Homo sapiens: one gene and its partners. The protein of the gene in region 3 purifies or fractionates together with the protein of the main gene of each other region. This does not show direct contact. Each region holds a gene or a part of one and is shown on either strand. Other genes may lie near its edges. The genes, in order: PEAK1, HAVCR2 and SH2D2A.

Region 1 (3,726 bases), on a different chromosome or scaffold from region 3:
CAGAGGGTCTTAAAAGAGACATTTATATTTAGCATTTAGTGTAAAATATCCTTTTCCAAACCTGCCAACAACTCCTAGTATATAACCACTTGCCATCTGTTCTTTGGAGATTGGTTTTACATCATTATAAGCAAAGAAATCAATACCAGACCACTGATTTGGGAAAGAGACAAGATTCCACGGCAATAATACATAAAGTTAGTCAAGTCCTACTTCTCAACTGTTTTGAAAGAACAGATAGTTCAATGTCCCTTTCTGAAACAGGTACTCATCCTGCATTGGTGATTTTGCAGCAATAAGGGCCCAAGATAGATAAGGCACCATAACCTCAATTTATATAACAGCTCTTAAGTGCTATATAGAATCTCAAAATACCTTTTTAAACTCAATAGTAATGTATTAACTTGAATCCAGATCCCCCTCTTTACAGTTTATCCCTCAGTTTAATTTAAAAAGTGTGAGCTGGAGCACAGGGTTACTCTGCCAGTGACATCAGACAGTCAACTGGTGTAGATACTGTAACTGCAGAGGGTAGCTAGCTGAAGGTCTGTTTCAAACATACATTCTGTCTTGATAGACAGGTAAGGCCAATCGTTACCTTATCCATTAATTTGCTAAGATACCATCTGGTCTTTCTAAGCCTAATTAACATGTAAAAGTCATTTAGATATGTTAATTGGTTTTGAACCAGTGAATAGAATCAGTAAAAAGGGACTATGGGAATGGAGGACACTACCTTAAGTTTACATATAGGGCTTTGTGTTCTTCAAAAACCTTTCATATGCATTATCTCACTTGATCCTACACTCACTGTAAACATCTGAAAGAGGAGGAAATTGAGGCTCAAAGATTGTTACTCTCTTAAAGTAACCTAGGGAAGAAGCTAGTGGCTAGTTAATGAAATGAACAGTTATTAGGGACATTTTGTTTTCTTTTAACCAAACAACAGCTCCATAAGATGGGTGCCATTATTGACAAAGCTACTAAGAGGCAGAACCAGGATCTGAACCCAAATCTTTTGGACTTCAAAGTCCACACTTTATTTATTATATTGATGAAACCTATGGCTTTCTGCTACAGTGAATGTAACTGGGCAAGAATTCTTGATGTCAAGAGTTTAGCTGTCTTGAAGAAGTGGGTTATCTGAAATAAGCAATCCACATGTAAGAAATTGATAAGTGGCACAATGGACAAAATACAGCTATGGAGTCAGAAATATTTGTGATTAAAACTCAGCTCTGGCCAGGCATGGTGGCTCACGCCTGTAATCCCAGCACTTTGGGAGGCCAAGGTGGGCGGATCACGAGGTCAAGAGATTGAGACCATCTGGCCAACACGGTGAAACCCCGTGTCTACTAAAAATACAAAAATTAGCTGGGCATGGTGGTGCACACCTATAGTCCCAGCTACAAGGGAGGCTGAGGCAGGAGAATCGCTTGAACCCGGGAGGCAGAGGTTGCTGTGAGCCAAGATCGTGCCACTGCACTCCAGCCTGGCAACAGAGTGAGACTCCATCTCAAAACAAAACAAAACAAAAACAACAACAAAAAACTCAGCTCTACCACTTGCTAGCTGTGTGATCCTAACCAAGTCAGCCTACTTCTTGGAGCTTCATTTTCCTCATATGTCAAATGGAGAAAAAGATCTTAATCTCATAAAGTTGATGTGAAGATTAAATTACATAACAAAAATATAGTTCCAGGAACATCAATAAACATTAGTTATCCTCCTCTATAAAAATGTTTCTCTAGGGAGCAAAGGAGTTACAGAGCAGAGGTAGACAAGCATTTCTTAGCTGGTAAAGGGTAAAGTCAGAAACATAAACCAGGTATGATGGCTCATGCCTGTAATCCCAGCACTTTGGGAGGCCAAGGTGGGAGGATCACTGGAAGCCAGGAGTTTGAGACCAGCCTGGGCAACATAGTGAGACCACCACCTCTACCAAAACCAAAAAAATCAGTCATGTGGTGGCACACACCTGAGGCTGCAGTGAGCTATGATCATGCCACTGCACTCCAGCCTAAAAAAAAGACAGAAACATGCAGTGAAAGGTACATAACAGACCTCATATTTTTAGGTAGCCCTTGCAAAAAGCAAAGCTCAAGGGTTACCTACTTTTTTTTTTGAGACAGGGTCTCACTTTGTTGCCCAGGCTGGAGTGCAGTGACCCGATCATGGCTCACTTCAGCCCTGACCTCCTGGGCTCAGGTGATCCTCCCACCTCAGCCTCCTGGGTGGCTGGGACTACAGGCATGAGCCACTACATTTGGCTAATTTTTTCTATTTTTTTTTTTAGAGACAGGGTTTCACCACGTTGCCTAGGCTGGTCTCGAACTCCTGGGCTCAAGCTATCCACCTGGTTTGGGCTCCCAAAGTGCTGGGATTATAGCCATGAACCACCATGCCTGGCCAGGTTACCTACTTTAAAAGGACTTCTTTGGCTGGGCATGGTGGCTCACACCTGTAATCCCAGCACTTTGGGAGGCCAAGGCGGGAGGATCACCTGAGATCAGGAGTTTGAGACCAGCCTGGCCAACATGGTGAAACCCCATCTCCACTAAAAATATAAAAATTAGCGGGGCGTGGTGGCAGGTACCTGTAATCCCAGCTACTCGGGAGGCTGAGGCACAATAATTGCTTGAACCTGGGAGGCGGAGGTTGCAGTGAGCCGAGATTGCACCATTGCATTCCACAATGGGCAACAAGAGTGAAACTCCATCTCAAAAAAAAAAAAAAAAAAGACTTCTTTGACTTCTTGAGTTTGGGTTAAGGTATCTCCAAGATCCCATAGAATTCTTGTTTACCTCTATCTTTGCATGCAGTATACTGTTGTAATTCTGTTAAGTTACGTATCTGTTTTCTTTAAATAATAAATAAGCCCCCTGCTTAATCTAGTATCTGGTAAGAGGTAGATGCTCAATAATTTGCTGAATGGAAGAATGAAGGAAAGAAAGGAGAAAAGCAGAATGAATCCATCCCAGTAACAATGTAGTGGTTAAGACTTAACATGAGATTTATAATATTTTCTTACCTTGACTGCATAGTTATTAAGTGGATCTTTTGCATATGAAGCAGTATAGTAAACCGCATCACCTGCCTCACAACATGGTTTGTCACTGGTTAGCCTGAAGTCTGACCAGCTGTCCACTCCAAAACGGAGCTGGTCTTTCTGCCCAGCCATGAAAAGGTCTTCGCATTTAACAGCCAGTTTCTTCAAGGCATCTGTATGAAGGCTTCGGATTTTACCCACTACTTCCTCCCGATTCTCAAGTCCTCGATAAAGTGCTTGTCTCTGCGGCTTCTGGATGCCTCGGCCCTGTCTGCAAGAGGGCCCACGCCGGCTGGAGAGGGATTCCATGCTGTTGGAAAATCTATCCTTAATACTGAGAGTGGTTAAGCTGGAAATGCTGTTTGCTGCTGAGGGGACAGGTCTCTCCTTGCGCAAAGGCCTTTCCAAGGAGTCATAAGACTCAATGTCCAGTCCTTTGAGTTCATAGCTGATGGAAGAACCAGCACTGCTGGCATCCCAGTTGGGGTCGATATCATAGGTGGGATTAGCCATGACACAAAGACTACTTTCCATGGATTTTTGGAGGTCCTTGGAGATTGGCTCTGTATTGGCTCTTATGATCATCTTCTTTGGCAGTGGGGGTGGTGTAGGTTGGGAAGCATTGGGTGCTTCTTGGTCTGTTTTCCCTCCAAAGGCGATGGCATCGTCCACAGCTC
Region 2 (3,726 bases), on a different chromosome or scaffold from region 3:
ATTCTGATGGTTGCTCCAGAGTCCCGTAAGTCATTGGCCAATCTAGAGTCCCGTAACTCATTGGCCAATGTGGATATTTGCTATGGAAACACAAACAGGATTTAAGCAGAAAACAGCTAGAAATCGCTTGTGTAATCAGCTTCAAGATTTGTGAATTGGACCATCCCTTTTACAACATCACAGGATGGCTGAGTCCTTCAAATCACCTTTGATCTGTCACCTTGTAGCCAACACTCAAGCCAACCCAAGAAAGGGTCTCCCTTAACCTTTGGAGTTAGCAAGGAAACAAAATGTGCCCTTCTGTGTTGTGGGTAGAGAAGGAGCTCTTAAAAAAAAAAAAAAAAAAAGAGAGAAGGAGCTCTTAAGACCCTTTCCCTGCCCCTGCAAAAATTGGCTTTAGAGTGGAGTCTTGTTGGTTCAAGATCCCCTAAGATTCCCCAGAGAGTTTTAGAGTAGTTTACATTTAGTGTCTTGCTATGAAACGTCTATTTTTCACAAAAAGACAGTGATTCAATAGCCAAGACTTTACAGCCAGACGGTCGTGGATTCAAATCCCAGCTCTGAGGCCGGGCGCGGTGGCTAATGCCTGTAATCCCAGCACTTTGGGAGGCCTAGGCAGGCGGATCACCTGACATCAGGAGTTTGAGACCAGCCTGGACAACATGGTGAAACCCCGTCTCTACTAAAAATACAAAACTTAGCCAGGCGTGGTAACACATGCCTGTAATCCTAGCTAGTGGGGAGGCTGAGGCAGGAGAATCACTTAAACCCAGGAGGCAAAGACTGGAGTACTCGAGTTGAGATCATGCCACTGCACGCCAACCTGGGCAACAGAGCGAGACTCCATCTCAAAAAAAAAAAAAAAAAAAAAATTCCCAGCTCTGCCACTAAGGGCTGAGTAATCCTGTAGAGTTATCAGGAAAACTAAGTGAGAGAAAATATAAAATGCTTAGTACAGGGCCTGGTACATAATAAATGTTCAATCAATCGTAGCTATTATTGCTATTGCTCTAGTTAACTTGATTTTCTGATAACTGAGAGCCACACAAAATAAATCCTGTTTCTAAAATTTCAGTCTATGGGTTCTCTCTTTTTCTCTCTTTAAAAACAATGATTAGGCCAGGTGCGGTGGCTCACGCCTGTAGTCCCAGCACTTTGGGAGGCCAAGGCAGGCAGATCACGAGGTCAGGAGTTCAAGACCAGCCTGGCCAACATGGTGAAACCCCATCTCTACTAAAAATACAAAAATTAGCCAGGTGTGGTGGCGGGCACCTATAGTCCCAGCTATTTGGGAGGCTGAGGCAGGACAATCGCTTGAACCCAGGAGGCAGAGGTTGCAGTGAGCCAAGGTTGTGCCATTGTACTCCAGCCTGGGCGACAAGAGCAAAACTCCATCTCAAAAATAAATAATAAATTAATAAATAAATAATAATTATAGGCCAGGCTCACACCTATAATCCCAGCACTTTGGGAAGCTGAGATGGGAGGATCACTTGAGACCAGGAGTTAGGGACCAGCCTAATAATATTGAGACCCCATTTATACAAAACACACACACACACACACACACACACACACACACACATATAATTATAAGCATTTTTAAAACAATGAATTTAAGGAAGTTAAATCTTCCATTTATTCAATATACATTTACAAATTGATTCAATACACATTACTCCTGCAATAACAGGAGTCCTATATGCAAGATATTGTGCATTAAGCATTGTGGGCACATACAGGTCCTTAAAAAGCACTGTTTGATTGCAAAGAGAGAAGGAGCAAATACAAGATGCTGAGCATCAGTTGTGAATACACAAGCAAGAAACTGAGTCAAATAAATGTGGGCTCCTGGATATGCCCTCAAGTAATTTTTTTTTTTTTTTTTTTTTTGAGACAAGGCCTTGCCCTGTCACCTAGGATGGAGTGCAGGGGCATGATCACAGCTCAATGCAGCCTCAACCTACTGGGCTCAAGTGATCCTCCTGCCTCAGCCTCCCAAGTAGCTGGAACTACAGGTTTGCAGCACCATGCCTGGCCAAATTTTAAAAAATATTTTTTGTAGAGACAGGGTGTCACTATGTGGCCCAGGCTAGTCTCAAACTCCTGGTCTCAAGCATTCCTTCCACCTTGGCCTCCTAAAGTGCTGGGATTACAGGCATGAGACACTGTGCCCGGCCTCCTCAAAGAATTTTTAAGTCATTGCTGCAAGCTTGCCTTCTAGTGGTTTTTCTTTTATGAGGGAATTTCGCTCTTGTTGCCCAGGCTGGTGTGCAGTGGCGCGACCTCAGCTCACTGCAACCTCCACCTCCTGGATTCAAGCGATTCTCCTGTCTCAGCCTCCTGAGTAGCTGAGACTACACAGGCACACACCACCATACCTGGCTAATTTTTTGTATTTTTAGTAGAGATGGGGTTTCACCATGTTGACCAGGCTGGTCTCAAACCCCTGACAGGTGATCCACCCTACTTAGCCTCCCAAAGTGCTGGGATTACAGACGTGAGTCACTGCGCCCAGCCAGTTTTTCTTTTATTCTGAGAAGGTAGCAGGGACAGTAAAATTGAGGTTTATTAAGGTATGGCTTTATTTATAGTTAAATACATAAAACTGGCTGGGCACCATGGCTCATGCCTGTAATCCCAGCACTTTGGGAGGCCAAGTTGGGCGGATCACCTGAGGTCAGGAGTTCAAGACCAGCCTGACCAACATGGAGAAACCCTGTCTCTACTAAAAATACAAAATTAGGCCAGGTGCCATGGCTCACGCCTGCAATCTCAGCACTTTGGGAGGCCGAGGCAGGTGGATCACCTGAGGTCAGGAGTTCAAGATCAGCCTGGCCAATGTGGTGAAACTCCGTCTCTACTAAAAATAAAAAAATTAGCCGGGTGTGGTGGCTCATGCCTGTAATCCCAGCTACTCGGAAGGCTGAGGCAGGAGAATCGCTTGAACCCGGGAGGCGGAGGTTGAGGTGAGCCAGGATCACACCCTTGCACTCCAGCCTGGGCAACAAGAGCGAAATTCTGTCTAAAAAAAAAAAAAAAAAACCTCTTCACTTTGAATATTCCTGACTGGTGTCTTGCCATATTTAAAGAGATAAATTTAAATACTCTTTCCCATTAGGATTGCAATGGAAGCAAGAAGAATGGTATTCTAGGGAGATGAAGAATCTTTGAACCTTCCACAGGGTAGACAGTTGTGAAATTGAAGAATAAGAGGGACAAAATGCTAATGTTTCTTCTTTGTGGTTTTCAAGCTCTTACTATATGCCAGGCACTTTACACACATCATGTCAGTCCTTCATTACAGCAGGCCTATGAGGTTAGAACTGTCATCATCAACATGTTACAGCCCAGGAATCTGAAGCTAAGGGAACTTAAGGCTTTTTACCCCAAGGACAAGGTGGGCATGAAGGAAGTCTAAAGCCATGATTTCCCCTCCAAGTTGAGTACAACATAGCTCACAAAAAAAGTTACTTACTGTTAGATTTATATCAGGGAGGCTCCCCAGTGTCTGTGTCTCTGCTATAAAAAGAGAGAGAGAGAGAGAGAGAGGAAAAATAGCCAATAGTATAGTTAAGAACGTTTTCTTTTATCTAAGTTTTTAAAAAATCTTAATGATGCCTATAATCCTATTTGAAATGAATTCTACTCCGTACTTGTCACAATAATTAATGGAGAGACAGACAAAATTTACTGAACACCCAGGAATCAACTTTAGGATGGCCA
Region 3 (3,500 bases):
TAATTTCTTCTGGAACACAGGGCCAGGCCAGATTCCATTTGTGCCTGTGGTTCTGAAAATGCAACATGGCTTTACACGTCTTTAACTGAAAAATTATTGACATGGGGACCAATCTCCATGACAGCTGTGCTTGTGTTTATTTCTGTACTGCCGGTTACTTTATGGAAATATAAGCTATTTTTTTTTTTTTGAGACCAAGTCTCATTCTGTCATCCAGGCTGGAGTGCAGTGGCGCAATCTCGGCTCACTGCAACCTCCGCCTCCTGGGTTCAAGACATTCTCCTGCCTCAGCCTCCCAAGTAGCTAAGATTACAGGCGCCCACCACCACACCCAGCTAATGTTTGTATTTTTTAGTAGAGATGGAGTTTTGCCACGTTGGCCAGGCTGGTCTCGAAATCCTGATCTCAGGTGATCCGCCACTTTGGCCTCCCAAAGTGCTGGGATTACAGGTGTGAGCCACTGCGCCCGGCCATAAGCTAACATTTTTAAGGGCAGAGACCACCTCAGGAGAGAGGAGCCCCATGTGGGATGGTTCCGTCTCACAGAGGGTCTGCTTTTAGCTCCGTGTTAGCCCTTGGTCCATGAATGCTGTCCCCATGCCTGCTGCCACTGTAGGCTAAGGTCACAGGGCTTTTCTTGTGCTCCTGCAATCCACCAAGTGCATGTCTCCATCGGGAGGTGTACTGCAGATATACTGTGGAAATCAAAGAATTCTTTTTCCTGCCCTAACCCCCTCCTCTCTCAGCATCTCCTTCCGGAATAAAAAGTAGCACCTCCACCCTGCTGCCGAAACAGCACCTTAGGAGTCATCCTTGATGCCTCCACCTCCTCCCTCTTGACATGAAATCAAACACAAGTCCTGCTCCTTCCACTGTCTAAATATCGTTCACATCTGAGTACTTTTCTCCATGCACATGGCCAGCACCCTAGTTCAGGCCTCCTGACTCCTCCCCCTGCATCGTCTTGCCCTTCCAATCCACTCTCCAGTCTTCGAGCAGAGCAATCTTACAGAAACTCCCCTAGCAATCCTTGGGTGGCAGCCCATTGCCCCAGAATAAGTCAGACTCCTGAGAGCTTGAGTGACAAGACTCTGTGTGATCTCAGACTTCTACAGCTCTGCCTTCAGGCTTCTCAGGTCAGGCTGGCTCCTCCTCACCCCCAGACTTCCCTACGCCCTGTGAATCTCAGGTCTCTGCCTGTTCCTCACAGAAAAGGCAGTGACCACAGGCACTGTCCCCACTTGTTTTAACTGACCCAAATCAAGTTCTGTGAAACTCTTCTTGTCTAGGTCACCAATGACCTCCTCTCTGTCAAACCTAGTATCAATTCCACCCTCTGCCCTCACCCGCCTTCACTCACTTTCTTCGCTTGGCTTCCAGAGCATCACACTCTTCTGGCTTTTCTCCTCTTTCTGAGCGCTCTGCTCTGTTTTCTTTGTCAGTTCCCCCTCATTTCTGCAAACTCTAAATGCTGGAGACCTGGGCTTCATTTCCTTCCCACCTACACTGACTTCCGAGTGAGATTTCTCCCCTCCTAAAGGTTTTAGAGTCCATCTAAGTGCTGGTGACTCTCAATATTTGTCTGCAGCCCATCCCTTTGTCCCAGTCCCCAGACTCTGAATTCCAGCTGCCTACTTGACATCTCCATGCTGAACTGCACGTGTAGAAAACAGAACTCCTGATCACCTGCCTCCTGCCTGGATGTGTTCCTCCTAGAACTTTTCTCAACTCAGTCAATGACAAGTCCATCTTTTCACACTCCTCATCCAATCCCACAAAAACCCAGCAGCTCCACCTTCTGAGGAGACTTCCACCCTCCTCATGCCTCCTGGAGGCACCCACCTCTGCTACCCTGACCCAGGCTGCCATCATTTCATGTGAAATATTGCTCCTCCCGAAACTTGCCAGGCCATGTCACCCCTCAGCTTGTAAGTCTCCAGTGCCACCTCGTCTCGCTCAGAATAAAACTTCAAATGCATACAAGAGTCTACAGGGCCCCCCTCCCTCACCCCTCTGATCTCATCTCCTACCTCTCTATCCCTCAGTCACCGGATCCACCCATGCTAACTTCCTCTCTGCTCCCATCATTCCTCAGACACACCAAGTCTCCTCCTGCCTCAGGGCCTTTGCACCTGCTGTGCCTGCTGCCGAGAATGCTTTTCCTCCAGTTGTCTGCATGGCTCTTCTCCTATTTCATACAGGCCTCTATTCAGATGTCCGCTTACCCGAGTGGCCTTCCCTGACACCCTGTGTAGAACAGCCCCAATCCTGTCACTCTTCAACAATATTTCACATGAAATGATGGCAGCCTGGGCCAGTGTAGCAGAGGCAGGTGCCTCCAGGAGGCATGAGGAGGGTGGAGGCTGGGTCTGCTTGGAAGGTGGAGCTGCTGGTGGAGCTCTTTGGTTTTCTTGTCAGTGTGTACTCATCATTACTAGACAGACTCTGTCTTCTTTGCTTGTTATCCATATTACTCACTCGTCTGTCTCCTCCTTCTAGAATGGAAGCTCTTGAAGGCAGAGATATTCAGGTCATTTACATTCACTCCTGTTTTTCCAGTGCGCAGAAAGTTGCGTGGCACACAGTGGTCCCTCAGCACTGCCTGAACTTGTGCACCGCTGCCTGCTAGGCTAAATGGTACCCTGTATTTCTTCTTGAATCACAGTCTCCACCCTGGATTTCTATTACTTGTCTGTTTTTGCTGCTGGAAAGTAGGCTTTGTGAGTTTGAGATCCATCTGTCTGTCTTGTTCATGGGTCTGTTCTCAGGGCCTGCCAGCAGTTGGTAGGCCCTAAGTACTCCGTAAGTATCTCTTACATTAAAAAACAAATGACTAGGCTGGGCGCAGTGGCTCACGCCTGTAATCCCAGCTACTCAGGGGTCCCATTCAGGAGACCCCCGCATCCTCCCCTGGCCTCATCCTGGAAGGGCAGCCTGCAGGGGCTGCTACTGCAGCAACAGGGATGGGAAAGTAAGTAGTTGGACTTCCAGATTTCAGAAGTCAAAGCTGAAAATACCAGGTGGAAAATACCAGCATTCGAGGCCTTAGGGATAGGAGGATAATGGGGCCTAGAGGGGGGAAGCTGACTCAGGAGGCTGAGGCAGGAGAATCACTTGAACCCGGGAGGTGGAGTTTGCAGGGAGAGAAGATCGCGCCACTGCACTCCAGCCTGCGCGACAGAGCGAGACTCTGTCTAAAACAAAGCAAAAGAAAACAAAAAACAAAACCCCAAATGACTCTGTGTGCCCCTGGCCTCTCCTTGCCCCTCTGACTCCGTGTGGCTGGGCTGGTCTCTTAAGGACGGTCCCCCAGCACTCATATTTCTCGAAGGGCCTGCCACCCTCCCATGAAGATGAAGATGCCTGGGTAAGGGAGGCATGCCCGAGTGGTGTTTCGGGATGAGAAAGTGCCTGGTGCCGCGTCCTGCGCCTGGGCTCTGAGCGGGAGGGGCGCTGGCCCGAGACCCTGGGCTCTCTGGTCAGGGTCTGGGGCGCGTACC

The links.
Region 1: the proteins of SH2D2A (region 3) and PEAK1 purify together in Homo sapiens (affinity purification with mass spectrometry; 3 studies listed by BioGRID and IntAct, with this or other methods). This does not show direct contact.
Region 2: the proteins of SH2D2A (region 3) and HAVCR2 purify together in Homo sapiens (co-immunoprecipitation; one study listed by IntAct). This does not show direct contact.

The regions. Positions count from the first base shown.
Region 1 is NC_000015.10:77,129,974-77,133,699, forward strand, and holds part of PEAK1 (inactive tyrosine-protein kinase PEAK1), read right to left. Parts: coding exon 3,032-3,726; intron 1-3,031. UniProt on the Homo sapiens protein: Probable catalytically inactive kinase. Scaffolding protein that regulates the cytoskeleton to control cell spreading and migration by modulating focal adhesion dynamics. Acts as a scaffold for mediating EGFR signaling.
Region 2 is NC_000005.10:157,095,380-157,099,105, forward strand, and holds part of HAVCR2 (hepatitis A virus cellular receptor 2 precursor), read right to left. Parts: intron 3,523-3,726; coding exon 3,479-3,522; intron 81-3,478; coding exon 1-80. UniProt on the Homo sapiens protein: Cell surface receptor implicated in modulating innate and adaptive immune responses. Generally accepted to have an inhibiting function.
Region 3 is NC_000001.11:156,810,349-156,813,848, forward strand, and holds part of SH2D2A (SH2 domain-containing protein 2A), read right to left. Parts: coding exon 3,500-3,500; intron 1-3,499. UniProt on the Homo sapiens protein: Could be a T-cell-specific adapter protein involved in the control of T-cell activation. May play a role in the CD4-p56-LCK-dependent signal transduction pathway. Could also play an important role in normal and pathological angiogenesis.